Regions from separate parts of the Homo sapiens genome. Here regions 1, 2 and 4 are each reported to be linked to region 3. The links are microRNA targets in miRTarBase. Many come from high-throughput screens and were not tested one by one. Region 3 holds a microRNA gene; each other region holds the end of a gene's coding sequence.

Region 1 (7,000 bases), not on the chromosome of region 3:
TCAACTTCTTCTTCAAGTGTTTCTTCTGCTGATGAATCAGTGTCTTCATCATCATCCTCTTCCTCTTCTGGTCACAAAAGGCATAAGAAACATAAGAGGAACCGTTCAGAGTCTTCTCGCAGTTCCAGAAGGCATTCATCTAGGGCATCCTCAAATCAGATAGATCAGAATAGGAAAGATGAGTGCTACCCAGTTCCAGCTAATACTTCAGCATCTTTTCTTAACCATAAACAAGAAGTGGAGAAACTACTGGGGAAGCAGGATAGGTTACAGTATGAAAAGACACAGATAAAAGAGAAAGATAGATGCCCTCTCTCTTCATCTTCACTTGAAATACCGGATGATTTTGGAGGTAGGTCTGAAGATCCAAGAGATTTTTATAACAGCTATAAAACCCAAGCAGGTAGTAGCAAAACAGAAAAGCCATATAAATCAGAAAGACATTTTTCCAGTAGAAGAAATTCCTCAGATTCCTTCTGTAGGAATTCAGAGGACAAGATTTATGGTTATAGGAGATTTGAAAAGGATATAGAGGGAAGAAAAGAGCACTATAGAAGGTGGGAACCAGGTTCTGTGAGGCATTCTACCTCACCAGCAAGCTCAGAATACTCTTGGAAGTCAGTTGAGAAATACAAAAAATACGCTCACTCTGGATCACGTGATTTCAGTAGACATGAGCAAAGATACCGTTTAAATACAAATCAAGGAGAATATGAAAGAGAGGACAATTATGGGGAGGATATCAAAACAGAGGTTCCAGAAGAAGATGCACTAAGTAGCAAAGAACACTCAGAAAGCAGTGTTAAGAAAAATTTACCTCAGAATTTACTGAATATATTTAATCAGATAGCTGAATTTGAAAAAGAAAAAGGAAATAAGTCAAAAAATTAATACACCAAGGATATCGGCACCATTACACAAAATGCCATTAAGTGAAGTTTTTGGTTGTATTAGTCATAACAGTTGAGTGCAGAAATCTCTGCTTCTAAAATTATTTGTAGAGATTACAGGAAACAAATGCTTTTAAGTAAGTTTTTCTCAAATTTTGTTTCAGTTCTAGGTCCCTTGTCACAGCTTGGTTTTTAGACTTTTTATGTATATGTTTATGTACAGTATATTACTCTTGACAGTTTGAATTTCTTCACCTAAAGATAATTCTCTGAAAGTACTGTTTCTTCATTCTATTGCGGTATATGAGAATTCCTGGGTGCATCTTATTCTGCTGTTTGAGAGAAAAATTTGTGCATTGAACACTTGGATCATTTTTATAAAAATTAATTTCATTTTCTTTTCTGTTAAATTAAAAATCGTCAGCTTTTGAAAGATTATATGTTCGAATGTTTCTTGAACACTTTTATATTTATCAGTTTAAATATTACATTTTTTGCCCAATTTTTTTTAAAATTTTTAAATGGTAGATTATATGTCTTAATTTTCCTCTAAAGCCCAATTTGATTAAAAGTGGTTTGTGAACAGTCATTGGCTTCCACCCAGCATAAGTGCCTTAGGAATAAGATCATAAAAGTTGAATAGGAGCCCATTTTGCTTATTTCTCCATTATTTTTTACCTCATTGCTAGCATAGCCATAAAAAGCTTTTTAACTTTAAATATTTACAAGGCCCTTAGGGCCTGTATTCCACGCAAGGGTAAATCAGAAAAGAAAAAAATCCTTTTAGCAAAAACATAGCAGTAGCAGAGAAGCACATTGTAAATCTGGCTTTTCTTTAGGGAAAGAAAATTGGGAGACTCTCCTAGTGTAGCAGATGTTCAGTCCAGAAGGCACTAGGCATGTCGTTAAATCTGACCTGCATTTCTTCTTACCACCTCCTGTGCCTTGATGCTTCTCTGATGACCCCTTTCTCAGAGTCTGAATAAATAACTAGACCAACTAGAGCCTGGTTTTACTAAGAATAATAAATTCCAGCAGCTAGAGCTGAAGAACAAAGAGACTTGGATTATAAAGATCCTCCCCAAATTGCTGAAAATAGTGTGGTATATTCTTTGGGAGACAGATAGAGATAGGAGTCATAGGTACTGGGTTTATGATGTCATTAGAGTTTGCAGTTTAAGATTCTCAAAGCTGTAAATTACAATGGACTTTAGATACTGTCACACACAATGACACTAGATAAGTGGGTGGGTAGCTGAGGATCTACAGAGGTCTAAGTGAGGGAGAATAATAGAGGAAGAAGAGACTTATTCCTTGTTCTGTCTTGCAGTTCTTGCCAACAGTAAAATGTCCAGGCCTTAAGTACTGGGTGTGTATTATCTGTGTCTATCAAACTCCAGTAATGAGAGCCTAGTGAAAAATCTGAAATTTCTTTTGCAAATGGAACAGTGAAAAGAAACCCTGGTCAAGAGCAATAGATAATGGTGATAGAAATCGGCTAGTCACTCAAAGCATTAGTCTTTGCACCAAGAAGAAGCTTCTTTAAGAAATTCATCTTAAAAAGAGTCCTTAATAATTCTATGTATTAATAGCTCCAGTATCATCTTTACAAAGTCGTGTTTATAAAGAAAGAGTGAAAACTACTTCTTGGCATACATAGCCTTTGACCTTTTGGAATCCCTAGTTCAGCTTAAAATTTTAAACACAACATTTAAAAAATTTTTTTTTCCTTAATTAATTCATATAAATTTAAGGGGTACACATGCATTTTTGTTACATGGATCTATCGTGTAGTGGTGAAGTCTGGGCTTCTAGTGTAACCATCACCCAAATGATGTACATTGTACCCATTTCATAATTTATCATCCCTTACCCCCCTGCCAACCTACCAGCATTGGCGTAGGCAGAATTCATGATTCAGACCTCAAAAGTGGAAGCAAGAGGGGCTGAGTACAGTCACTCATGCCTGTAATCCCAGCACTTGAGGCTGAGGGAGGAGGATTGCTTGAGGCTAGAAATTTGAGACTGGCCTGGGCAACGCAGCATGACTCCATCCAAATAAGTTGGGTGTGGTGGTGCATGCCTATAGTCCCAGCTATGCGGGAGGATCGCTTGAGCCCAGGAGTTCGAGGCTGCAGTGAGCTCTGATTGTGCCACTGCACTCCAACTTGGGTGACAGCCAGACTGGTGTCTTAAACACAACAAAAACAAAATGGGACTTAAGTAAGCTACGAAGTTCTTGCACAGCAAAAGAAATAACACAGTGAACAGACAACCTGCAGAATGGGACAAAATGTGCAAACTATGCATCAGGCAGGGGACTCATCCAGAATTTACAAGGAATTCAGCAAACCAAATCACCCTATCCAAAAGTGAGCAGAAAACATGAATAGGTATTTTTCAAAAGAAGAGATAAAAATGGCCAAGAAGCGTATGAAATAATACTCAACATCACTAATTAGAGAAATGCAAATTAAAACCAAATGAGATATCTCTCATCAGTCAGAATGGCTATTACACCCCATTCAATGTAAGAGAATAGTACCTTATCCTGTAGGCTGCCTGAATTTATTAGGTAGGCGCAAAAGTAATTGCAGTTTATGCCATATTAAGCAGAGTATACAAACCAATTTCTAAGGAAGTTCATCACAGCAAAAATTATTGGGGATTTACATTGTCAAGAATAGCGACATCTTCAGTAATTTTTCTCAAGATCATATATTGCCATATCTTGGTCTCCATAAGCAGATGAAGCATGACTTTTGGATATGAGGATAAGTGTCCAGATTTGGAGATAGGTTGATCCCCTGTCGCACCATTTGTCATTACTACACTGAAGTTGTTAGAACTGTTATTTAAGGATTAAATGTAGATTCGTATGCTGGCCCAAGAACCAAACCATTCCACAAATTCTGTGCTAAGCTCCAGGTGGCAACTCAGTAAGTAGAAGTTATATAGTGCAATTTCTGTGTGTCAAGCCCTGTGCATCTTTTTTATATTATCAAATTCGGTAAACTTGTAGGTAACTTTCTGTGTCTATAGTACAAATGAGGAAAACAGGGAAGTAACTATCCAAGGTTACAGAGCTAGTAAGATACAACCTCTACCTTCATAGAAGAGTGTTTAATATTACTTCAAGTTTTAAGTAATTCCCAAACTAGCACAGGGCTGAGAATAAGAACTTTGATGAGCAAAGTGACTTTAATTAGTTTTTAGGTCTTATAAATCTCATGCATTAGAGCAGTACTTTAGCCAAAAATTTTATTACCTACCTTTTTTTTCGCCCACCTTATTCTTGACTTTGCTATGCCTTTTTCCTATTTCTAAAACAAAACAAAAAATAATCAGGAGAACTATTCACTACCACTACTGCTTTTCAGAAAGAAGTACAAACAACAGTTCTAAAATAATGACAGTTGTAATGAGCATTTTTTCCCAAGGTTTGAAGGAGACACATGTACATTCGTGAATTCTAATACATTTATTTAAAATCCAGTTTTATAATATTCCACACTCTATTCCAAGAGTACAAAGTGTTGGGCACATGTTATAATGAAGTGTTAACTGGAAAAACTACTACATTTGGCAGTCTACCTCCAACTGTAAATGAAATTTCTATTGCAAATCAAGTCATACCTAGCTTTCATTAAATCGTTTATTAAATCAAGAAAATTTCAAAATTGTTTATACTTGGTTGGCTGTATCTGAAAGCAAATCTTTAATGCGTTTATTTCAAGGTCAGAAGTGATTTATTTCAAGGTCAGAAGTGATTTTTCTAAATTTATGCTGCATTTTAAAATTGATATACAGTGTTTCTCTTACCGGTTTTTTTTTGGGGGGGTGGGGTGGGTAGGGGTTGATGCTATTTTTTGGTTAAAAATTATAGCAAAAGAAGAAACTGCCTTTAACAATTTTTCTCCCCAAAAGTCTGAGAAATAGTTACTTTGAATAAAGAAAACCTAATTTTGGTGTCTTGTAGGGTAAATGAGATTTTCACATTGCAATACGCTCATAATAGTACAGTAAATCTTTAGAAATTTCTTCTTGAAAGATTGTTACATTAGAAGTGAGTGTAGTTTCGTGAAATAATGAAGCAAACTATTTTCTAACACTACGAACATCAGAATTACAGTGAAATACAGCATTTTTCCTATGCTTGTATAACATGTAGCCTTGTCAAGAATCTGCTATTAATTTCTTCAGTATGAAGAAAACAGTAGAGAAAATGAGAACGTTCCTTTTTTTTTAAAACTATCAGTTTTTACACTTACCACTAAGTTTTTACACTTTCCACTAGATAAAATGTGTTGGGTCGTTTTGTATTTTAAAGTATATTTTTGTTTTTGTGTTTACAACTTTTTCAGAAGAGATTAAAATGTTTATTTGCTGCTCTTTTTGCTCTTAACATTACTAGAGCTACTACTAGCACTAGATGGCCTAGAAGGGCTGCCTACTAGTGAAGAGGAGGCCGGGAATTTAAGCTCCAGTACTTTAATTGAAGACTGAGAAGTAGATGTACTTGTACTCCTAGATGACCTAGAAGAAAAACCAGAATTATAAATTCAATGCAAAGTTTATATTTTAGTATAGACCCTCTCATTATTGGCAAAAGGTACCATAATTCCATAAGTAAAGACATCAAAAAAGTACATATTAATAGTGTTAAGTTTTTAAATGACCATCAATAGATATCAAACAATTTAAACAGGAAAGGAAAGATGAACATAGATGAGTTTCAAACCAGTAGAAAAGTAGTTTAATAAGTATGTTCCTACATGGTAAAAATGCTTTGAACTATAATCAGTTTTTTAGAGTTGGAATCATTAAGCATTGAAAGTTTCCAAAACAGAGGAAATAGGGCCAAGAGGATTTGGTGCTGGCAAAAATAATTAAAATGATACCTTTTGTAATTTAAGCTGAAGAGAAGAGAGAAGCATATTGATGGATAAAGTGGTGGGGTCATTTGAAAAACAGCTAGCTATATAATTCTGAAAAAAGTTTTAAATATATATTTTATGAAAGTACAGGGATGTTCAGTTATATAGAAACAGTTTTTTATACTTAAATGAAACACTTTTTTTAGGGGCCTCTTCATGAAATTTTTACCTGGACTAAGGAATAGTAATTTAATAAGTAGCTGCTGAATGCAGGAGATTGTGAATTCTAAAATCAGGATCATTATTAATAAATTTTTGTCAGCAAAGCACAAGAATGTTTGCTTAAGCATCTGGTGATAGAATTCTGGGTAACAACTGCAGAAGAAAAAAAAAGGGGTTTCCTTTTTAGCAAAATAAAGCTTCATAAAGTCAAATCCTGATTATGTAAAATACCACAGTGTGGTTTGAATCACAAAAATCATATTCTATATGTCTGTACATCTAAGCTGCCCTTACATGTTTTTAAAAAAATTCCCCCAACTTGGGGGTTCACCCCCAAATGCTAGATGTAGCCCCCAAATTTATTTCTGTTTTATCCTACTGAAATAGCTCATAGTCACAGAGCACTTGGGCTATACTGGAAATAGTGACACCAGCAGAAGTCAGAAGGAAATTCTTGTTCTGCTGGCTGTTTCTGCATCTAATCTATATGATGCTGACTAGTGAGATGTCTGACAGTGAAAAGAACACTGGCAGTGAGTGCATGGGCCTGCCTAACAGCTGCGGTGATGTAGAAGTGGCTGGAATCACTTAGTGTACAGCTGTGAGAGTTAAGCAGATTTTTTTTTAACCCTCCGCTTACCTTGCTGATAGTGAAGTATGTGAAGGAGATCTAGAGCTCTGACGACTGCCTTTTGTGCTAGCTGTAGGTAGTTCTAACCCACTCTGGAGGAATATTCAATAGCAATCATTAGTACTACCTACTGTTTTTTAGAAGATAAATATTTTTAATTAGCTTTCACTTCATGATGAATGTCATGAAAGTTTTTATTTTCATGAAGTTTTTAAGAAATATTTAATAGAAGGTGCTGTATTACCTGTTGAAAGTATGTTTGAAGGATAATACGGATCTCAGTATTTTCTTCTATGATATCAACTAACATTTCATCAATAACTTTGTGAAACTGTTTCATTTCACGAAGTTTGATGTCTTGTTCTTCCATTGTTTCATCT
Region 2 (7,703 bases), not on the chromosome of region 3:
CCCAGGCTGGAGTGCAGTGGCGCTATCTCAGCTCACTGCAACCTTCGCCTCCCAGGTTCAAGCGATTCTCCTGCCTCAGCCTCCCAAGTAGCTGGGATTACAGGAATGTGCCACCATGCCCAGCTAATTTTTGTATTTTTAGTAGAGATGGCGTTTCACCATGTTGGCCAGGCTGCTCTTGAACTCCTGACCTCAGGTTATCTGCCTGCCTTGGCCTCCGAAAGTGCTGGGATTACAGGCGTGAGCCACCGTGGCCGGCCCAGTACCCTTATTACGTACAAAGATTTAGTTCTGAGCTGGAAAGATTACTGCTACTGAAAGTGTCTTCATGGTTTGAAACAGTATTTCCTACCCATCTCAGGTTGCAGAAGTTGTCATTGGTCTAGGAGAGGGACATTCACCTTCTTTTTCAATCGTGTTGAGAAAATTTGGCCTGTTCTCTTGGATTTGTTTTGCATGATGGATCTTTTTTGTTGTTGTTGTTGTTTGAGATGGAGTCTTGTTCTGTGGCCCCGGGTTCAAGAGATTCCCCTGTCTCAGCCTTCCGAGTACCTGGGACCACCATGCCTGGCTAATTTTTTGTATTTTAGTAGAGACGGGGTTTCACCACGTTGGCCAGGATGGTCTTGATCTCCTGACCTCATGATCTGCCCATCTCGGCCTCCCAAAGTGCTGAGATTACAGGTGTGAGCCACCGTGCCCAGCTGATGGATCATTTTTATTATGGTGATGAGGTGTACAGTGCAGTTTGCTTTGAATACATGCACTTTGTGACACAAGTTTTGACATAGTACTTAATTGAATTTAAGAAAGTTCAATTTTAGGATAGAAAGCTGATGCCTAGAGTGGCATATTTTAGAAGTTCAATTTTGGAATTGTTATTTTTTTTTTTTTAACCTTAAAAACATTATAAAGAGGTATTTAATAAAAATGCTGAAATTGTTTTATACAAGTTCTTTAGTTGTATGTTCCTAGTAGTTCTAAGTTGGGAAAGTCAGGCACTTAAGATAGGTGATTATTATGTGTGAAAAATACAGCATCTTTTTCAAAAATGCATCTTTTTTAAAAGCAATATCAGGTGTATGCTGTATTAAATGGGGAATGTACCTTATTGGTATTTAAAGGTCTTACAAAATATTTTTTCTTTTTTGACAGTTCTGTTGAGTTGGAAGAATTGGCAAAATATCTGGACCATTAAGAAAACGGATTTTGTAACTAGCTTTAAACTAGGCCAAGCAACTAGTTTTCCTGCAAATCAAATTTTTAAAGCAACTTGGGTTAGACTTTGTTTTTGACCTAACATCCCTTCCTTAAATGCCTTCTGTAGTTTCAGATCAGTAGGGAGACCATATAATAATTTTATGGTACCTGTTTCAAAACATATTTTTTCTGTTTTTATAAGTAAGTTGATATTAATTAAACTCTTGGCAATATTTCTTCTTTCTTAAAGGAAAATATACCTTAACTTTTTTTCTTTTACACTGTGAAACATACACAGTAGAAATTCTGTTACTCTCTGTTATTAATACATAAATGAAAATACATTTTTTTCCATATTGGCATGTAGCTACAAATATTAAAGGAGGAGAAAAGGTAATATAATTTTAGGTTTACCAAATATGGTGTGTATTCAAATAATACTTGACCAGCTTATCTAAAATGTACATAATTTTGAGGTAGCTTATGAATTTGATTTTAATTATTATGTTCACAAGCTTGGAATATTAGATATTATTTTGCATCTGTAACTAACCGTGATCATCATTTCTTGTAATTTCTTGTACATGTATATTACTTGTTCTTAATAGATTTTTGGAAACAAGACTTTATTGAGATCAGTTTGGTTTTCCTGTTAATTTACCTGTTTGACTTTATAATGTGTTTTAGTTTTGCAGAAGAACACTGTTGTAGTTTAGAAGGCTTTTCATAAATCCCCTCATAGGCAAAGATGAAAACTTCCCACTATTTTTTTCCCCTCTTAGGAAGACATACTGGAAAGAAAATGTTTAGCATCTTAGTGTAGTATAGCTATTGTAAACAGTTCATGACTAGATTTTGATTCGGAAATCTATACTGACCAAGGATTAATCTTAAGGATTGTATAATTCATTAAAGCTGTGGTCTTTCCATGTGGAGACTGATAGAAAATAATTTTGTCCCAAGTCTTATTTGCTGACTTTTTCTGTCATGAGTGAGATTGTTGAACAAACTGAATATATGGGCTATAGCAAGTAGCTTTACAGTACAGATCTTACAATTAAGTTTTGCTTTTGTTAAAGTGTGTACCATTTTTTCTGTTTGGAGTAAGACAAAAATTGTTTTGACATAGGTTCCCTAGGGTACACTTGCTCTAGCATACTTTAAAGGCCACTGTTGCAAAGTCTACATTTTATGCTGAATCTGCATTCTGTCAGGCACCCGTAGAAAGACCTCAGTACATGCTTTGCACTCTCCTTTGCTCCCTTTTTCCAATTTCTTATTGCATATCATTTTGTTGTAATACAGAAAGCAGCATTTTTAAATGTCCGTGTTAAGAATTGGCCCACTGGTACCAACTCACCTCTATTTTGTCAGTTCATAGTTGAAGATTTTGTTTTATTTCAAAAACAAAGTACATTTTTGAAATAATGTTTCAGAATAAAATAATCTCACTTTTAAGTGATCCATTTTAAAATTTGTAATTCAATAAAGTTTTTTTTGTTGTTAAACATATATCACATTTTGTCATTTTATTTAGACAATGAAGCTTGCTTTACCTTTTGTTTAACCACACACCTGCTGTCCCCTCAACTACTAAGGTATTTCTAAAGTACAGTTTTAATTAAGTGAAGCCTGGTCTTCAGTAAAAACTAGTATTCAGCAGCATTACAGAGCATGTTTTCTTTCTTATCTTTTCCTGGACCTCTGGCGATGGATGGAATGGCAGGTTCTGAGTAAATACGTGAGTGCATCCCATGTGTACACTTAATTTAATGTGAGAGACCAAATAGTGAGTCTTGCTATTGGAAAATACTAGACTTTATTTATTTATTTTTTTATTTTTTTGAGATGGAGTCTTGTTCTGTCACCCAGGCTGGAGTGCAATGGTGCAATCTCGGCTCACTGCAACCTATGCCTCCCAGGTTCAAGCGATTTTCCTGCCTCAGCCTCCCAAGTAGCTAGGATTACAGGCGCCCGCCACCATGCCCAGCTAATTTTTGTATTTTTTAGTAGAGATGGCATTTCACCATGTTGGTCAGGCTGGTCTCGAACTCCTGACCTCAGCTGATCCACCCACCTCGGCCTCCCAAAGTGCTGGGATTATAGGCATGAGCCACCGTGCCCGGCCCAATACTAGACATTTGTAAAGTAATCAGAAGTAAATATTAAGGGTAGTATTTTATGATATTTACTTTGAGGGCAAAGTAACTTTGTTAAATGAACATGCAAAGGAATTAGACAAATATACTAGCAGATAATGAAGAACCATCCTGGGGAAAGCAGAAAATGATAATCTTGGTTTTCTAGCTTACCTGGATGATGACGAGCATTGGTTTATAAATTTTGCTAAGCTGTGGCAAAAATTCAGAAATATTTATATTCACCCAATCACTTAAACCTATATGTAATCTTACAAATGGCAAATATTTTAAGTATTAAGAAGACAGCAAAAGAAATAACAGGCTGTGCTTTGAATTATTATAGCTACATAGTCGTTGTCCTTGTGGGTCAAATTGTAATTTGTGGATTTGAATTGACTTTATTTCTTTTTTCTTTATTTCTTTTTTTTTCTTTTTTTGGAGACAGGGTCTCACTCATTCACCCTGACTGGAGTGCAGTGGCACAATCTGCTCACTGCAACCTCCACCTCCTGGGCTCAAGTGATCTTCCCACCTCAGCTTCCCGAGTAGCTGGGATTATAGGTGCACGCCAGCACACCCAGCTATTTTTGTGCTTTTATTAGAGATGGGCCATGTTGCCCAGGCTGGTCTTGAACTCCTGGGCTAATGCAGTTTGCCTGCGTCAGCCTCCCAAAGTGCTGGGATTACAGACTTGAGCCACTGTGCCCAGCCATTTCTCAAAATAAAAACTACAGTTAGAGTTGTGATTTAGAGAGTTTCACTCAACAGTTGTTCCCAGGCTGGGCTTGGTGGCTCACACCTGTAATCCCAGCACTTTGGGAGGCTGAGGCAGGAGGATTGCTTCAGCCCAGGAGTTCGAGACCAACCTGGGGAACAAAGCAAGACCCTGTTTCTACAAAAAATAAAAAAACTAGCTAGGCATGGTGGTGCATACCTGTGGTCTCTGCTATTCAGGGGGCTGAGGCAGGAGGATCCTTTGAGCTCAGAAGATTGAGGCTGTAGTGAGCTGTGTTTGCACCACTGTACAACACCCTGGGCAACAGAATGAGACCCTATCTTAAGAAAACAAAAACAAAAAAACAAACCAGACCAGTGAGGTGGCTCATGCCTGTAATCCCAGCACTTTGGGAGGCCAAGGCAAGAGGATTGCTTGAGCTCAGGAGTTTGAAACCAGCCTGGGCAACAGAGCGAGACCCTGTCTCTATATAAAATTTTTAAAAAACAAAAAATTGTTTTCTATCTCCCCTTTATTTAGTTGTATTTAGTTGTAGAAAATTAATGATTCAAAAGGAATTGTATATCCCACTGGGAAACCCGATGGGGATAATCACTGAATTACTAGTGAAAGCCACATATGAGGCCAGGCACGGTGCCTCACTCCTGTAATCCCAACACTTTGGGAGGCCGAGGTAGGTGGATCACCTGAGGTCAGGAGTTTGAGACCAGCCTGACCAACATAGTGAAACCCTGTCTCTACTAAAAATACAAAATTAGCTGGGCATGGTGGCACATGCCTGTAATCCCAGCTACTTGGGAGGCTGAGGCAGGAGAATTGCTTGAACCTGGGAGGTGGAGGTTGCAGTGAGCCCAGATCGTGCCATTGCACTCCAGCCTGGGCAACAAGAGCAAAACTCTGTCTCAATAAAAAGAAAAAAAAAAGCCACATATGAAAAACAAAGGACCAATGTTAAGGATACTACTTCACAGGAAATAGGACAGAGTTACTGACAAATTCCTAGGAAGTAATGGAAGAATTATGTTGAACAATGTTTAAGTAAGTTGAAGTCAATAAAAAGTAATAGTGAAATTGAGTGGAAAAAACAGCTTATAATCATGGCTATATTCGATAATCAACAGCTATAACTTAGTAGAGGTGGAGTTAAGTTCTTGTGGGAAATGTGTTCACTGCTGTCTCTAGCATCCAGAAGAATGCCTGTCACATAGGTGCTCATGAAATAGTTTTTCTTGGATATGTCTTTATCAATGTGTTACATGATGTTCTTGGCTGTTCAAGAGCTAAGATATAAAGAAAGAAAGAATGTTCCATGGGTCGAGGACTTGCAGAGGTAGAGTGGATAATTAATGGTTGGTCATGTTTTAGACTCCAACTTTAAAATAAGGAATGTAAGGAGTTAGAGTGTTGGGAGATCCCTTTTGGTGCTTTATTTCTGCAAAGTGATGCAACAGTTTCAGTGTACTCTTGGTACTTGTTTATCCAGCTGGAGGATGGAAATTGAAAGCACAGGGAGCTGTCTCAGGTGACTTACCTTGTTCTGATTCCTCTCCCTGGATGCTATATAAAGATAGCTAATTTTTATTTTTCCCCTTAATGGCCATGATTCCAAAGAGACACATTTCATATGTGATATCCCATACAGTCTGGTTAAATTGGTCCAAGTGTTTTTATAATTGGGTGACTGAACTACTTTGAAGTAAACGTTATTTGTGTGATAATGCCAATGTGAAAGTATAGCAGGTATTAAAAAAGCAAAAACTGAGAGCACTGGAGTTTGGACTGTGATAGGTATAGCTTCTGTCTCAGCATTAGTGAACTCATGAATGAACTCAGCATTAGTTCCCAAATGCTTTCCTAATTTATTTAGGGGCAGCTTCGCCCCTTCTCCTCTCTACATGACTCCGGCAGGTCTCATTCACAGTGTCCCCCCTACCCCATGCCCGTCCTTGAGATTCCCATATGAACAGTGACAGCTAAGCCACCTTGAGCTGCGTTTGGGGCTCCCTGCAGCTTTTTGCCTACTACATGCAGAGATCCTTTGTGTATGATGAAGCTGAGGGGAGTTGAGATGGAGAGAGTCCTGATAATATCGGACATCTGGACCCAGCCATGTGGAAGCTGGAACTACTGTAGACTTCCTGCTTATGAGGAGAAATCATTTTCCTTTGTGCTTAAGCTAATTTGAAACAGGTTGCTCTCACAAGCAAGTGAAAAAAAATCTTAAATTATTTTGGGTGAATATTTGAGTTAAATAAAAGAGCTGATACAAAACATCAAAAGCTGTGAGAATACTGCTAAGATTTCCAGTTAACCTGCAGAAGCAAAAGAGACCTAGGGGAGCATTAAGGTTATGGGTTAATATCAGGCTGACTTATCTTAATGTTTTGCTGATCTGTCCATCTTTTTCAATTTTTTTATTGAGTAAGAACAGGTAACATGAGATCTACCCACTTAACAAATTTTTATATTTATAAGCACAATGTTGTACAGCAGATCTCTAGCACTTACCTTATATAAGTGAAACTTTATACCCATTGAACAGCAGCTCCCTACTTCCCCTCTCGCCAGCCCCTGGCAACCACCATTCTATGCTTCTATGAGTTTAACTATTTTATGCAGTATTTGTCTTTCTTTCACTTATCATAATGTCCTCACGATTTGTCCATTATCCTGATTCATCAATTCTGTCACATATGGCAGGAGTTCCTTACTTTTTTTTTTTTTTTTTTTGAGACAGAGTTTCGCTCTTATTGCCCAGGCTGGAGGGCAATGGCACGATCTCAGCTTACCACAACCTCTGCCTCCCGGGTTCAAGCAATGCTCCCGCCTCAGCCTCCCAAATAGCTGAGATTACAGGCGCACACCACCACACCCAGCTAATTTTTGTATTTTTAGTAGAGACGGGGTTTCACCATGTTGGTTAGGCTGGTCTCGAACTCCTGACCTCGTGATCTGCCCGCCTCAGCCTCCCAAAGTGCTGGGATTACAGGCATGAGCCATCATGCCCGGCAGGAGTTCCTTACTTTTATGGCTAATATTTCATTGTATAAACACACATATATATACATATCACTTTTTTTTGAGATGGGAGTCTCAATTTATAATGACTCAAATGATAAATATTGTGCAGAATATTCCTGCAACATTAAAAAATGGCCCCCAAACACAGGATGTAGGTATGACTTAAGAGGTCAGGTTTCTTGGAGGAGGCAAATCTTATAGAAATGATAGGAGTTCGCTGGGTAAAGAGTGGAACTTTAGAGGGAGCAGGTAAGGGAGAGCAGAAACCAAGTTTTCAGGAACAGTCATGAAGGTCTGAGTGGCATATGCACCTTTTCTACACATCTGTGTTCTAGAGACTAAAACAGAAACAGCTGGCTAGGGAGGCAGTAGCCTGACTGCAGAGGGCCTTGCTTATTATGCTGGGCCAAGAACTCAGTATTTGACTCCAGGCAATCAGGAACTACTGAAAGATGTTAAGGAGTGGAGGGATGGTGACAAGCAGAAATGTATGTGAGGATGACCACCTTGTAGGCATTTGAAAGATGGATTTGAATGGGCTGAGACTGGGAGCAGGAGACCAGGAAGCTCTTTTGTCAATGATGCAGATAAGAGATGATGGGGGT
Region 3 (7,703 bases):
GGAGGGTCCTGCTATGTTTGTGGCAGGGAGCTGCAAATCAGAATGCAGGTTGCAGAAGCAGCTTCTACCTCTGAACAGAAACCCCCTCCTGACAGGAGCATCATGTTAGGAAACATCTCTCCTGTCAGGTTTCATTCGCCTCCGTCAAGTAATGGGCTAGGTGTGGTGGGCTCGGGGCTGTGTGTTCATGCCAGCATAGCATCATGTGGTTTAAGGGTTGGAGGTATTGATTTAGGAGCTGGCAGTGAGGGGTGTAGGGGTCCTCTAGCCCAATGCCTTGAATCTAGTCCCTTCTGTAGGGTATTGTATGGCAGTGGCGGCAACTGCAACCCTTGCCAGGCACACAGGCAGGCAGTAGATCTGTGTTAGCTGGCCACACAGCACCAAGAAGGCTGCAGGAGGTGGGTGGGCCTGGGAGGCTTCCATGCCGGGGTGCCCAGTGAACTTTGCCCCTGAAAGCCAAGTCCTGGCCCCTGGCTCTGTCTGGATCCTGATGGAAGGCACGCTTCAGCCAGCCTGCCCTGACACAGAGTTTGCAAGCACAGCTCATTCTCTGTTTGGTCTAGTTCCCTAAATGAGGTGTAGGTCAAGTGCACACAACAGGCTTTGACCAGGTGTGTTCCCACGACATTAAGGCTTCTCTTCCTGGGGCTGGAAGTGGCTTGGAGAATGAGGCCTGAAGCCTTCTTATACCTGCCCAGCCCTGTCCCTCCTTTCAGATAACTTTTCACCCTGGCTTAGTTCCCCCCAGTCTCTATTCCCCCCACCCCTACACACACACACCATTGGAAGTCTAGGACACATTGCACATTATGAGGAAGAGCCCCAAACTTTTCAGGCAACTTGGACTTAAGCCTCAGCTCTGCCACTGGCCAGCCAGGCACTTGATCCCTGGACTGACTTCTGCATCTGTAAAATGGGGACCCCATACCTGTTCTACCTGTTGCTCAAAGGACTATGAGCTTTGCATGCTGATGGTTTGTGTAAAGGAATGAAACTACAAGGTGCAGCCCAGGATGGGGCCTTATAGCCAGGCCCTGATAACATGGGATTTGGGGCAAGAGGGATAGCAGGGGCAGGCAGAACACCAGATCCCACCTGAACCTGGGACTTGTCCTTACTAGGTGAGGCTGTGGTGACACTGGTAAACTCTGGGGCCAAGTGTCCTCTAGATGGGGGCTTCTTGCAAGGGGATCTGGGCATCGTCCTTGCCTGGGTAGCTGAGCCACCCCAGAGCTCCTTGCAGGAAGCATGGGAAACATGTTGTGGAGTGTGTGGATCTAGGTTCACATCCACTGTCTGGCTGTGTGCTGCTTGCTGTCTTCCCCTGTGTCCTTATTCAGAGCCTTATAAGTCCTGGGTCTGCAGGCCATGTCGCCACATTCCATCCACCTCACGTCAAGTGGCCATACTCAGAGGGCCTTCTTTCCTATGGGAGGCGTAAGAGCAACCTGCTGGTGCCAAGCCTAAGCGCGGGGCCCAGGCAGGACCCAATCCCCCAAAACACTCCCACCCCCACCCCCTACCCACTACGGCGACCAAGACCACACCAAGGGTATGACTGCCCTGACGTTTCTGTTCGGCAGCCCTAACGTTGGCTCTGCAGAGACCCCCCTCAAGTTCCCAGGCCCAGGTCGGTCTAGGGCCCAGAGCTGGCTGGCCCCTGACTTCCATCTTGTCCCCTTCTCTTCTCTGTTCACACCACTTCTTTGCCACCTTGTGTGCAGAAGGAGTCACTGAAGCTCTGAGCAGATGGAGGATGGTGGCTGAGTCTTATCTGAGACTCAGTCGCATTCTACTGCCCTTTAAAACGCCTGGTGTCATAGAGTGTCAGTGTGTGACGGGACCTGAGGCGAGTCTACTCTACTGTAGCTGAGGCTGACAAGCGAAGGCCACAAAGCCACCTGCTATGGCTGGTGACAGGGCTGGGGCTTCACCCTGGGCTTCCTGACGTTGTTTTGAGGTTCTTTGTCTTTTGTTTGGAATCTCGTCAGTGGGTATCTTCTGAGCTGGACCCTGAGTGCAGTGTCCTGGTTCTCAGTGGGGTCTCTTTCCCTTGGGGAAGCCAGATCAGATCTGGGTGCGATGATGATGGCAGCAAATTCTGAAAACGTGCTCAGTGTCTTTATAACAGGAAAGCCGTAAACTTAGAAATGTAGGCTGCAGCTCGTGTGCTCTGTGGTCTGGGCTGGTAGGGATGGCTGGGCCTGCTCCAGCACCCATCCCCAACCTCCCCATAGCTAGTGGGGCACAAGGCCACTCACACTCAGCTGTGGGGAGTTGACAGTCTGTCAGTCAGTCTCGTCGTTGGCCTGTAACCATGTAGGATTCACCGTGGCATCATCCAGTGGGACCACCCCCCACCCCCCTGCCATCGCCACCATCACCATCATACCTACCCCAACCTTTTGCAAGATACTGTGTCTGTCCTCTTTGTTCATGAGCTGAAGACCAGGCCAGGCGTGAGTCACTTTGGGATTGCAGGAGGATGGCTTGAGTCCAGGAATTCGAGATGAGCTTGGGCAACATGGTGAGACCCCACCTCTACACAAAATTAAAAAATTAGCCGGGAGTTGGGCACAGTGGCTCATGCTTGTAATCCCAGCACTTTGGGATGCTGAGGCGGATGGATCACTTGAGGTCAGGAGTTTTTGAGACCAGCCTGGCCAACATGGTGGAACCCCATCTCTACTAAAAATACAAAAATTGTCGGGCATGGTGGTGGGTGCCTATAATCCCAGCTATTTGGGAGGCTGAGGCAGGAGAATCACTTGAACCCAGGAGGCGGAGGTGGAGGTTGCAGTGAGCCAAGATCATGCCATTGCATTGCAGCCTGGGCGACAGAGTGAGACTCCGTCTCAAAAAAAAAAAAAAAAAAAAAAAAGCTGGGCTTTGTGGTGTGCACCTGTGGTCCCAGTTACTCAGGAGATGGAGGCAAGAGGATCGCTTGAGTCCAGGAGGCTGCAGTGAGCCATGTTTGCGCCACTGCACTCCAGCCTGAGCAACAGAGCAAGACCCTGTCTCAAAAAAGCCGAAGGCCAGTTGTTCCTGGGTACCTTGGGCTGGCCCCACTGGGTCTGAGTGGGTTGGTGTGAGATCAAGGTCTGCAAAAGAGCATTGACTCGTGAGCTGGGCACTTGGGAACAGGCTGTTTCTGACATGCTCGGTAACTGCGAGCAACTCGCTCGACCCCTAGGCCCTGGTTTCCTCCTCTAAAAATAAGGTTTCTTCCAGCTCAGATGTTCTGTATTTGGGTTGCTACTGAGGGCTGGGAGTTGGGGAAGGATGTGGGAGGGGCTTATAAGAGGCTCGTTTTTCCCTTTTTGGATTTCTCTCCTCTTCTCACCCCCTTCCCAAAGTAGTGTTTTCCATCGGGATGACACCGGGAGAGCTCGCTCGAAGCAGTGGGTAGGGGACTGCTGAAGCACGTGCATTCGTTACTTGAACATTGTGAGTGGACAGTTGAAACAATTCTTCCTTTCCAGATTGAATTCTAACTTTTAGAGATGCTAAAGGGTTGCTGCAAAAGTCTTTTTTTTTTTTTTTTTAAGGATATTTCTATTGCCTGCAGTGAGATTTTCCTGGGGTGTCTTTTCTCCAAGTCCCAATCCTGTGAGACAGGAATTTACAGAAGGCCAGAGTTGGCCTCTAGGGGTGACTGTTCCTGGTGGGTTGGTGGGTTGTCTGTGGGCAGGGAAGAGTGGGGAGTGGTTCCAGTGGTTTCTTGCCTCAGTATCCTTGGTGGAGAAGGGTCTGTTTGCTTTCTTTTTTTTTTTTCGAGATGGAGTTTCACTCTTTTTGCCCAAGCTGGAGTGCAATGACGTGATCTCGGCTCAGTGCAACCTCTGTCTCCTGGGTTCAAGCGATTTCTCCAGCCTCAGCCTCCCGAGTAGCTGGGATTACAGGCGTGCGCTACCATGCCTGGCTGATTTTTGTATTTTTAGTGGAAAGGGGATTTCACCATGTTAGCCAGGCTGGTCTAGAACTCCTGACCTCAGGTGATCCGGAGAAGGATCTGTTTTCTAGGTGGTGGTTCCTGGAGTCTGGGGTCCTTTCGTGGCTATTCTAAGGCCGGGATTTGTCCTCCAAACTTAAAGCTTAAGAGACTTTAATATCCCTGAGCCTACCACTGTTTTTGAAAGCAGTGTTTACCTTTTCCATCACTAATAAAAGCCAGCACTTACGGAACTTGTCCTCATGGTCACAGTATCTGAGAAGTTTAGAGTTGGATCCCTCAGCATCGGGCTTGTCCTTCCCCTTGCAGAGGGAGACACGCTTCTGGTGAGCGGCCAGGCCGCAGCCACTTCTGACCAAGTGTGGGGTCCCCATGGTCGTGGCTCCTGGCCGACCCCATGTCCCAGTCCTGTTCTTCATGGAGGCTTTGCTCAGCTGCTTTGGCCCCTCCTTCTCCCCCACGAGCCCATTCCCTATTCCTGCAGGACCTCCATGTGAGCTGGGCCCTGTGTGTGCCCTGGAAGGAGGGACCCTAAGCATCTGCTGTCCAGGGCACTGGCCTTTTGTGGCAGCAGCTTGAATGCCAGGTCTGCCCATGGCAGTGTCCAGGGCCAAGAGAGACGTCTACCTGAGCTGATAGACACAGGCCGAGTAGGCCTGGCGCGGTGGCTCACGCCTGTAATCCCAGAACTTTGGGAGGCCAAGGTGGGCAGATCACTTGAGGTCAGGAGTTCAAGACCATCCTGGCCAACATGGCGGAACCCCATCTCTACTAAAAATACAAAAATTAGCCGGGCATGGTGGCGCGCTCCTGTAGTCATAGCTACTCCGGAGGCTGAGGCAGGAGAATCGCTTGAACACGGGAAGTAGAGGTTGCAGTGAGCTGAGATGGTGCCACTGCACTCCAGCCTAGGTGACAGCAAGACTCCATCTCAAAAAAATTAAAAAATAATTAAAAAAAGAAAAACAGGCCGAGTCCCTTTCCACGCAAGCCTGGATTTGTGCTGGTGTCTTGGGTGCTCCTGATACTTTGCTCCTGAAGGGTTGTTTAATTTGGTCTTTTCTGAAGATCCTGAAACAAATGTCAGTTTGTCTGAAGGAAGAACATCACCGACACGTAGATGGGAATGGGTTTGTCAGAGCCCCTTCTTCTTACTTCTCTTCTCTAAAAAATGACCCCTTAACCTCTAGGCTGGAGAGGGCTGTGGAGGAAGAACATTTGGATGTCAGCTTGCAGCTCACACCTTCCTGAAAGAGAGGGCTGGGTGACCTGGGCAGCCTGGGCAGGCTCCTCCGTCGTGGTGGGATTAGACAGCATGGTCCAAAAGCTCCTCCTAGATCTATTCGTACTAGGAGGGGATTCCCCATTCCAGGGGCCTCCAGAAACAAGGCTGAGGATGGGGGGCTCTACTTCCTGTGCCACCCAGGTGCTGTGCTCCCCTTCCCCAGGACCCCAGGGCTGAGTTACGATGCTGGAGCTGGGAGTGAGACTGAGGGGCCTCCCGGGGAGGTGGGGAGAGGTCAAGAGGTGGCTCAGGATGGGTGAGGTGGCTCACACCTATAATTCCAGTGCTTTGGGAGGCTGGGGCAGGAAGATCACTTGAGCCCAAGAGTTCGAGACCAGCCCAGGCCACAGAGTGACGCCCCATCTCAAAAAATAAAAATAAAATAAAAATAAAAGTTTAATTTTTAATTAAAAATAAAAATAGGTAGCTCCCAGGCACTCTAGGTCTAGCACTGGCTGGCGGGAGAGAGCTCAAGAACACACAGGCCCTTCTCCCCAAAGGAGTCAGGCTTATAAACAATTGGCAGCAAAGATCTAGAGGACTCCAGGAAGTGCCAGTAAGTGATAGCCTGTGGGGTCCATGGACCCCTCTCCCACCCTCCCACTCCCTGTGACTCTAGAGGCAAGACTTGCCTCAGAAAAGAGCAGCTCTGGGTGCCTCCAAAGCTTTGCTGGGCAGAGGCAGTTGTGCCAAAAGTTGGTCAGTTCCCCTAGGTAGGCCTGGCACTGGCTGGGACCTCCAGCAGGGCTGGGTCTGCTCCTGTGGGGTCATGAGAGCCACACAGCCATGTCTGTGGTATTCTGTATGGGTACACAACCCTGGCCACGTTCCTTGCCTATATTGGTGCTTGCAGCAGGTTCCACCAGAAGGGTTGTTCCTCAACAAGTATCTTTGACTGAGTTCTCAGAATCATCCTCCATCCGTTCCCCCGGTCTCCCCCATACCTGCTCCATGTGACTACAGGTGTACCTTCCAGCTGTGCTGAGGACCTGACTGTGCTCCCAGCATTTCTGCTCTTACTTGCCATAAGGGTGACTTTTTTGGAAGGGCTGTGGTTGCTCTTCACATTTTGGGACAGGAACCCTTGGGTTGCTGGATGCTTCTGCAGAAGGGATGAGAGTATGGAAAAGGGCCCAAGTGAATGCGTTTGGTGCCTTCCAGCAGCCTGAGATTGTGAGAACCACCCCTGTGCACTCTTTAAATGCTTTAAAACGTTTTGTGTATGTGCTGAATTCTTGTAATAAACCCATGGAATAGGCAGGACATGAGTTATTTGGTTGAACTTTCCTTGTCATCAACTAGTTGTCGGTGCCTGAATCCTTGTCTGCATCTAACCTTTTATTTTTTATTTTTGTTTTTTAGAGGTAGGGTCTTGCTCTGTTGTTGCCCAGGCTGGAATTCAAGTGGTGCAATCATGACTCACTGCAGCCTTGAATTCCTGGGCTCAAGCGATGCTCCCACCTCAGCCTCCCGAGTTGCTCAGACTTCAGGTGCCTTCCACCACGCCTGGCTGATTTTTTGTGGGGGGGGATAGGGCCTTGCTATATTGCCCAGGTTGGAGCATCCAGCCTGTTCCTGAATGTTTCCCCTGTTACCCTGACGTAGGTACCACAATGGTCCCCTGTACTGGCCTGAGACACAAGACTAGTTGGCTGGACCTTGGAGAAGTAACTGCATGTCTCTGTTCCTGCCATTGCTGAAAGATCCTGGCTGTGCCATCAGCTTGCCTTGTTACCCTGTTCTTGGCTTCAGTTTCCCCATCTATAAAACGAAGGGGTTGAACTAGCTGATCTCTGTGGTGTCTTCTATTTCGGGCATTACCTCCTCTGGGGAAGAGAAAAACTAAAGAATCTAGTGACCACCTTAGGACATCCTACCCACATTACCAGCTTCAGTAGACAACCTTAATAAGTGGCTCATGGCACCTGATGAGGGAGATCCTTGTGCAGGTAAATGCAGGAGCCCTAAATGAAGCCAGCATTTTATTGCTCTCACAAGTAATGGGGAGAGTAAGGTGAGCTCTTAGTCTTGGAGGTAGATGGTGTTTGTGTTGTGAAGATGAAACTGAGGCCAGGCATGGTGGCTCATACCTGTAATTCCACCACTTTGGGGAGGCCAGGGCAGAAGGATTCTCTGAGCCCAGGAGTTCAAAACCAGCCCAGGCAACATAGTGAGACCTCATCGCTACAAAAATGGAAAAGCTAGCCAGGCATTGTGGTGCACACCTATAGTCCCAGATACTCTGGAGGCTGAGGCAGGAAGATCTCTTGAGCCTAAGAGTTTGATGCTGCAGTGAGCTATGATAGCGCCACTGCACTCTAGCCTGGGAGACAGACCGAGACTCCATTTCCAAAAAAAAAAAAAAAAAAATGAGGCCGGGCATGGTGGCTCGCACTTATAATGCCAGTACTTTGGGAGGCCAAGGCGGGCGGATCACTTGAGGTCAGGGATTCCTGACCTCAA
Region 4 (7,703 bases), not on the chromosome of region 3:
GCATATGTCTTTCACACAGGCAATCTTTCTAGCCCTCTACTAATGTCCTTGGCATCAAGTGCTTCATTTCCCCCAGGAAAATGAAGGCTTTTCTTTATCGAAAACTTATCTTTAAGGTATCTTGTCCTTCGCGAAGGACATGAACAGACACTTCTCAAAAGAAGACATTTATGCAGCCAAAAAACACATGAAGAAATGCTCATCATCACTGGCCATCAGAGAAATGCAAATCAAAACCACTATGAGATATCATCTCACACCAGTTAGAATGGCAATCATTAAAAAGTCAGGAAACAACAGGTGCTGGAGAGGATGCGGAGAAATAGGAACACTTTTACACTGTTGGTTGGACTGTAAACTAGTTCAACCATTGTGGAAGTCAGTGTGGCGATTCCTCAGGGATCTAGAACTAGAAATACCATTTGACCCAGCCATCCCATTACTGGGTATATACCCAAATGAGTATAAATCATGCTGCTATAAAGACACATGCACACGTATGTTTATTGCGGCACTATTCACAATAGCAAAGACTTGGAACCAACCCAAATGTCCAACAATGATAGACTGGATTAAGAAAATGTGGCACATATACACCATGGAATACTATGCAGCCATAAAAAATGATGAGTTCATATCCTTTGTAGGGACATGGATGAAATTGGAAACCATCATTCTCAGTAAACTATCGCAAGAACAAAAAACCAAACACCGCATATTCTCACTCATAGGTGGGAATTGAACAATGAGATCACATGGACACAGGAAGGGGAATATCACACTCTGGGGACTGTGGTGGGGTCGGGGGAGGGGGGAGGGATAGCACTGGGAGATATACCTAATGCTAGATGACACATTAGTGGGTGCAGCGCACCAGCATGGCACATGTATACATATGTAACTAACCTGCACAATGTGCACATGTACCCTAAAACTTAGAGTATAATAAAAAAAAGAAAAAAAAAAGAAAAAAAAAGGTATCTTGATTCTCTCTGAAATTTTTTATTATTTCTGATGTTTTTTTCCAGGCTTGTAATGTGTCAAGGCCACTTATCTGCAGCTACCTTAGAAGTAGTATAATTGATCTATGTTCTCTCAAAAGCAATTTTTTCCTAGTCACAGAACTATTTCTTCTTTTACTACTTTATTTGTTCTAGTTATTACAGAATCAAAGAACTTCTTGAAAAGAGAATACTTTCCCATGATAACCAATTACTTTAGAAATACTCTGCATGACACTATAATTGAAATTAGATGCTAAGTTTTGTCCCTCAGTGGCTGAACACCCCCAACCTTTTAAAAAACAAAAACTTCAAAAATAAAAATTCAATATTTCTTTTTGTAAGCCATCTCTTGATTTTGCTATCACCACAGAAAAATTTGTAGAGATTTGACCCCAATACATCAAGTACTGCAGAGGCACCAAGACCTTTTCTGCTTCTAAAACTGCATTTGTGGATGTCACCAGTCTCTTAGGCTGAAACTGAAACTGCCCATGCTACAACCTTGGCGAAGTATGGAGACACCTGTGAGGACCTTTTTACTTTTTGAAAAATGGCAAGCCAAGGACTTAACAACTGCCAACTAAAACACAAATCCTTCACTTCACAAAATAAAATTAGATGATCATCTTAAAAACATTACCAAATGTGCAAGCTGAATATGAAGAGAAAGCCTAACTCAGGAATATCTTCCAGCCCAGTTTGCATTTCCATATAAACTGAACCTGCACCCCCTCCCTCCTTCAAATGTTTGCCTTTCAATATTTTGTTAGGCAGGCAAGAGTCAAGAGTCATGCCAACTCTAGTAATGTGGCCTCTGTTCAAACACCTACCACAGTGTGGCAAAGGGAAAACAGCATGGGCTAAGAGTGGCCTGGATTCAAATCACAGTCCTTTTATTTACTTTCTATGTGCCCTTGAGTTGTTTACTTTAGCCCCCTGGGCCATAATTTCTTTCTCTGTAAAATGAGAATACTTGCATGAATATGAAACACTGAGCAGTTAATAAATACGTGCTTAATAAATGTTAGGTTCTTTGTTATCCCTGCCAGTTCATCACTTTCAGTTCATCCATTGCCAGATTCTCTAACTTGCTGGCCAAGGTATGTTGATAATTTCCTATAGCTGCCACTCTTCTATTATCACCCTCTTCCCATAGCCTCTGCAAAATGACTGCCCATCCATTAAGCCTAGGGCAAGCCAGTCTCATTCCATGATAGCATGCCTCGCCACAGAAGCTTTTTGCACTTTAAGTCAGAGTGCCAAAGGCAGGCGTTGAAATTCATTCTTTGGCATTCTTAAGGTATAGACCAGAGCAAAGGCAGAGCTACTCAGCCACTGCTCCCTGGCCTCCAGGCAGACTGCTGGTCCCCAGCTCTCCAAGATAGGCCCTTGATCTGTGTCCCAGGCAACACACAGCAATCTCATGACATTTCTGGGACATATTTTCTACTGGGATCACAGCAGCTTTCTAGGGCTCTCAATAATCTTCCAATGTTTGCATCGGTGATTGTGGTATTTTCCCCCAAGAAAACCAGAGTCAAACCATGTTTCTTTAAAGGGACTGTGGCCCTATTAGCCATGCTTTCATGGCCAAAATCTGCACACCTGTCTGCTTTATTCAGGATAGAGCAGGGAGGCCACAGCCCTGAAACAAGGGCTCAAAAATCACTTCCTAGGTGAGGTCAGTAAGGCCTCACAGAGACTACTATTGGGGGCAAGCAGCAGGTGAAATGATGGTCACTTGACTCTTTTACTCCTGGTTTCTTAGCAACCTGGCCTTTGAGACTGGGTACAGTGGAGTGAGTTCAACCGGGCCACCTGGATATGCCTTGATTTAGAATGGCATCAAGTTTCCACTCAATTACTTTCAAAAAGGCTCTCAGTGTACTTGGCCTTACATGTTCCTAACTCACCAATAAACCATGTTTGGAATTCAGTCTTGAAAATGACTACTGCCTTTCAGTAGCACTGTTCCAAATGCATCTCTGAGTGGGTTTGCACATGAGTGTGCATGTACTCACTCTCTATCTCTTTATCTAGGTTTATCTGTCAGTACTATAATCAGTGCACTAACAGGGCCTTGGTAGAAGAGTGCAAGTAGGAAAGCTCTTTCCCTCACACTGGGCAACATTATAATTATACAGACGCTACAGACAAGCTACGGCCCAGGCATCTGCATAGAAACAAGTACTGATGCTCTTTCCAGCAACTTCCCTTCAACAAACAGGAATTAGAAATGTCCATTCCTCAGATTTCTGCCCCATTACACCAATTTTTAGGTCCTTTCCAATAATAGAGATAGCAAATGAAAGGGACCTGGCAAGGGTTTATGTCCTAACATTTTTCACTTGGTGGCAAATATTCAAGAAAAAGGGTAAAAGCCAACCCCCAGAAATGATGGCCACTAAAGCCACAAACCACAAGGTCCCTTGCTAGATAAGTGTGATATAATGGGGAAAAAAAACTTGCATAGGAGCCTGGGACCTGAGATCTTGTACTGGTGTGATCACTACCTTGCTCTGCCTCAGTTCCCCCGACTGGAAACTGGGCAGTTGTTAGACTAAATGATTTTGAAAAGCCCTTCCAATCAAGGGCTTATATGGATTGTAAAAAGAGTATTTTACTCAAGTGCTGTGGTTCTTGACTTTTTTGGGTCACGAGCCCATTTGAAATTTAGCAGAACATTATGGACTATCTCCCCAGAAAGGGCATATTGTCATGGAATTGTGCATACCATCTCAGGGGCATCATGGAGTTTCTGAGTCCATGGACACTGGGTTAAGAACTGCTTTTTTCAGGAGATAAAAGAGTTTATGTGCAGAAGGCAAACATGAAGCAGCAGTGACAGCTGCCTGGCCTCAATCCACCTTAACAATTTTTCTAGCATTTGACCCCAAAATAGAACTCCTACAGGACCAAACACAGTCTCCTTTTTTTAAAAAGAAATGTGTTCAGCTTTTGTTTGTTTCTTGATTGCTTGACAGGAAGCTGTCAAAAAAAAGGAGAAAGAATAATCCAAATAGACCTAGGCTTTTACATGCAAAACATGCTTTGCAGATTTGTCCTAAGTGGCTGCATGTAACAGCAGGAAGGCCACCTTCCTAAGTCCACATGGAGGTGCTGTGGGGGCATCACTCATCCCACTCATAGCCTCGCAGGAGCAGACGGGCTCTTGGCAACATACTGCAGCACCAGAGCGCTGACATGGCACCAGTGTCCATATCCTCAGTAGGAGACATGTTGAGATTCTCCAATGTTCAGCAAACATTTCTATTCCCTTCCAACCAAGGTAAGCAATGGCCCCAACTCAAGTGGCCTTCAGTTCAAGGTAAGACCCCTGAGATCAGTCTTTAGCCCCAAATCTCTCAGAGTTCAATGGCCCTCTGAGGAAGCAGGAAGTTCAGGGAAGAGTTGAAAACTGAGCTCCCCTCTTCAACTCAGGTAAGTGGATATCTTGGTTTTGGCAGAGTCTGGCTTGAGGGAGTCCAGCTCTTCACAGTGTTATAGGAACTCAAAACAGACCTTCTGAGGGGATGAAGACAGAATACAAAGGAGATATAAACACCTGTCTAGGACATATGCTCCTTATTTTATGGCCTCCCAGAGAGAGTCTGAAAGTGCAAGGCTAGGAAGGAGCTGCTCTTCAACACAAAATGACTCCGCACACAAAGGTTTGAAGAAGAAAGACTCTTTCAGAACCTGGAAAGGGTCCTCTGAGGCCAAGGCTTTTAAAACCTGAAAGAGAAAGAAGAGAGTAGGGAATTAGCGAGGACTGGTCAAGTACTTAACAGCCACTGATCAGTGGGGCTTCTCTTGGTAGGTAGCTAAGCCTATAATTGGTAGCTCATCTTCTGAGCAACAGCGGATTGCTGGGCAAAGGCTCTTACAAGTCAAATCTCATGAAACAGGCCTAAGATGGTGCTATGACCAGGGCTGGACACTTTGTGCCTTTGACCTCAACTCAAACTCCCCAAAATCTACATGGAGAAATAGAAGCCTGATACTAGAACCTCTGAGATTTCTTCCCACATCATGCCCACTGCCTTTATGGTCATACAATAACTATAAACTTCCTTTTAACAGGGACTTCACCTCCATAGGGGCTGATAAGGAGAAGCTTATCTACCCACGGACCTCTGAGGACTGGCAGTGACAGGGAAAAAAAGAAGGTTAGGGAGCACATGAAAAGCCAAGCTCCAGATACTTGGATCTCATTTATGTGTGTTATCAGGTCACATCATGCCAGCAATCTGATAGTCAAACAATCAGAACTCCTATGATAGAGAAAGGAATTTCCCTGACCTCTGAGTCTCCTGTGACCTTTGCAAGTCACTTATCCCCTCTGAACTTCAGTTCCTTTATTTGTTGAGTTAGAACACATATTATCCTCCCTTCTCCTGGCATGTGATATGCATCAAATGAAATAATGAATGTGAAAGTGCTTTGCATTGGACAAACATAAAGGACTAAGAATGAAGGTTCAGGTGGGTAAGACTGAAATAATGATTTGGTCTGCAGGAATGAATCCATCTACAGACACTAAGGTAGCCTCTTGGCATCTGTTATAATATCAGAAAGCATGTTCCTGGTTTCCTTAAAGGCCCGAGAGGTGTCAGAGTTAGAAGGTTCCAACCTTCTCATTTTAGAAACTGGGAAACTGAGGCTCAGAGAAGTAAATGTACTTTCCCAAAATGTCACAGCCTAGGATTCTTAATAAATTTGATTCAAAGGCAATCTGTAAAAGCGTGCCATAGTTTGGCTAGGAGAAAAAGAAATGAAAGAGGAAGGTTACTTAAAATCACACAAAACCTTGGAATTGAAAGTCACTAAATTTAAGGGTCAGGCAGTGATAGAGTAATGAACTGAGGCGTAGAAGTGAGTTCCCACCCTTCTGATCTACATGTTATTCCAGTCCTCAAAATATCAGATCCCGTAATGAAGGCTTATGTGGAACAAGATTTTGTAATCAGGGATGGGGACTGCATACCTGTAGCCTCAACTTTCATCTCCAGGAAGTCTGCCTTGAGAACTGTGGATAAAGAAAGACGTTTCACTAAGATTCTAGAAATCAGGACTGGAAAGGTAAATTGGGGGAATGGGGGACACTTCTAGGCCAGTGCTAAAGAGGCCATTTGAAAAATGGAGAAGTGATTCAGCCCAGATGTTTCAAAACATTTAGCTCCATGCTTATAGTTGGGGCTCCTTCTCTGGCAGGCTTAAAGAGATGTGAAGACATCTTTCAGGTGCCAGAACAATTCTCTGAGTACCAGACTATGTGAAGCTTGGAGAACCCAGGGAAGCTGGCTGCAGACCACGAACTACATTCTGTGATGATCTCTAACAGGGATAAGGGTGAGGACACAGACAAGTACCATGTGAAAGATGAATCCTCCTTTGCCTAGAAGACCAAACCAACCTTGTCCAGCCTCTTGATGTGCTTGGATTAGTTCTAAATTACCCATGTCTGGGGACAGCTTGGGGAGGAGAAAATCTTGGCAAATGAAACCCACTCTAGTGTGGCCAGAGCATTACGTACAACAGCTGGTCCCCAGGGCTATGTCCTCAACCTTCTGTTTTTCTCTTCTCTCCAGTCTGTTTACACTTACTCCCTGGAGGATCTTATTCCCATCCATGGCTTCAATTGCCACCAAATACTAGGGACCTCCCCACAACAGGCTACTATTCACATTGTAGCATATGTGACTAGCCCCACTCCCCAGACTTATATAGTGGCTATACTCATATTTCTAACCCCCAAATCTATGTATACATACATCCAGCTCCAACTGCTAGCCTAAGTTGCAGTTACCCACTGAACATCTATCTCTACCTAAGTCTCAAAGTGTCTTTAAAAAATTTGTATAAATTTAACAACTGTGTCTTCAAAATCACTGTGTCCAAAATTGAGCTCAGCATCTTTCCCATAAAACCTGCTTCTCCATGATTAATTATTGTACCATCTACTTAAGTGCCCAAGTTAGACTTTTCTCTTTCTCGGTTCATCAATGTTCCATGTTTGAAAATGTAGCAAGGTCTTATTGAGTCTTTCTCAAATCTGTCCCTTCTGTTCCATTCCCACTGGGAATGCCATAGGCCAGGGCTTCCCCAACTCTTGCCAGGACAATTAGTCTCCTTAACTGGTCTCCAGTCTTTACTCTCCCATCTATCTTTCCCACTACCAAAGTGATCTTTTTACAACTTGGTCAGCTCAGAATGTGACTGTCATTCTTGAAATTCTTCCCCCCTTTCTATGACTCATCCGCATATGGACTGCAGTATAAAGACCAAGCACCTTAGTATGTTATACAATGCCTTCACGATCTGGCTCCAATCCATCTTTCTGGTCTCACCCCCAGCTAAGTTTCCCTCTTTTCACTCCCACATTCTAGCCAAAGTGGAACACTAATAACTTCTGAAACCATAAGCTGTCGGGCCTCTTTGAAATGTTCTCACCTCCTTTATGTTCTTGATGAGCCACTACTCATTTTCTTCTTAGTTATTTATGTTTAAATTGTGTAAGGGAAATGAATAAGGGGGTGATGTCATTCAAACGCTAGGCCGTAGTCAGGTATACAAATGGGGACCAAAAAGGGGCAAGACAAAGTTTAAAAAGATCATCATTTTCATTAGAGATGAGAGAAGAACTTAGCAACAATGACCATAGACGGGACTGACTATGTGACTGGTCTGAGGATCTTG

The links. Region 3 holds the annotated microRNA hsa-miR-1272 (GAUGAUGAUGGCAGCAAAUUCUGAAA, at 2,085-2,110, shown strand). A microRNA usually pairs through its seed, bases 2 to 8, with sites in the 3' UTR of a target mRNA and lowers its output. Matches are read on the target gene's strand: a 7mer-m8 pairs with bases 2 to 8, a 7mer-A1 pairs with bases 2 to 7 and ends in A, and an 8mer does both.
Region 1: miRTarBase lists TTC14 as a target of hsa-miR-1272. The part of its 3' UTR that is shown has no 7-base or 8-base seed match.
Region 2: the mRNA of TCEA1 is a reported target of hsa-miR-1272. Seed matches in the 3' UTR shown: 7mer-m8 at 1,759-1,765.
Region 4: miRTarBase lists OPHN1 as a target of hsa-miR-1272. Seed matches in the 3' UTR shown: 7mer-m8 at 624-630.

Annotation. Positions count from the first base shown.
Region 1 is chr3:180,609,652-180,616,651 of GRCh38, forward strand. TTC14 (tetratricopeptide repeat domain 14) reads left to right here. Exons shown (of 12, transcript NM_133462.4): 12 at 1-1,479. The coding sequence ends at 891. It overlaps CCDC39 (coiled-coil domain 39 molecular ruler complex subunit), which reads right to left. Exons shown (of 20, transcript NM_181426.2): 18 at 6,865-7,000; 19 at 6,630-6,712; 20 at 4,357-5,426. The coding sequence ends at 5,270. Among named protein-coding and RNA genes, the nearest start is that of TTC14, 11 kb to the left of the region's middle.
Region 2 is chr8:53,961,565-53,969,267 of GRCh38, reverse strand. TCEA1 (transcription elongation factor A1) reads left to right here. Exons shown (of 10, transcript NM_006756.4): 10 at 1,156-2,712. The coding sequence ends at 1,164. It overlaps LYPLA1-TCEA1 (LYPLA1-TCEA1 readthrough), which reads left to right. Exons shown (of 21, transcript NM_001425842.1): 21 at 1,156-2,712. The coding sequence ends at 1,164. Among named protein-coding and RNA genes, the nearest start is that of TCEA1, 57 kb to the left of the region's middle.
Region 3 is chr15:64,756,878-64,764,580 of GRCh38, reverse strand. MIR1272 (microRNA 1272) reads left to right here and starts at 2,066; the gene lies at 2,066-2,194. The region is part of intron 1 of RBPMS2 (RNA binding protein, mRNA processing factor 2); the gene reads left to right. RefSeq lists an enhancer at 1-838.
Region 4 is chrX:68,042,425-68,050,127 of GRCh38, forward strand. It overlaps OPHN1 (oligophrenin 1), which reads right to left. Exons shown (of 25, transcript NM_002547.3): 24 at 5,992-6,033; 25 at 1-4,739. The coding sequence ends at 6,000. Among named protein-coding and RNA genes, the nearest start is that of NXTAR, 260 kb to the left of the region's middle.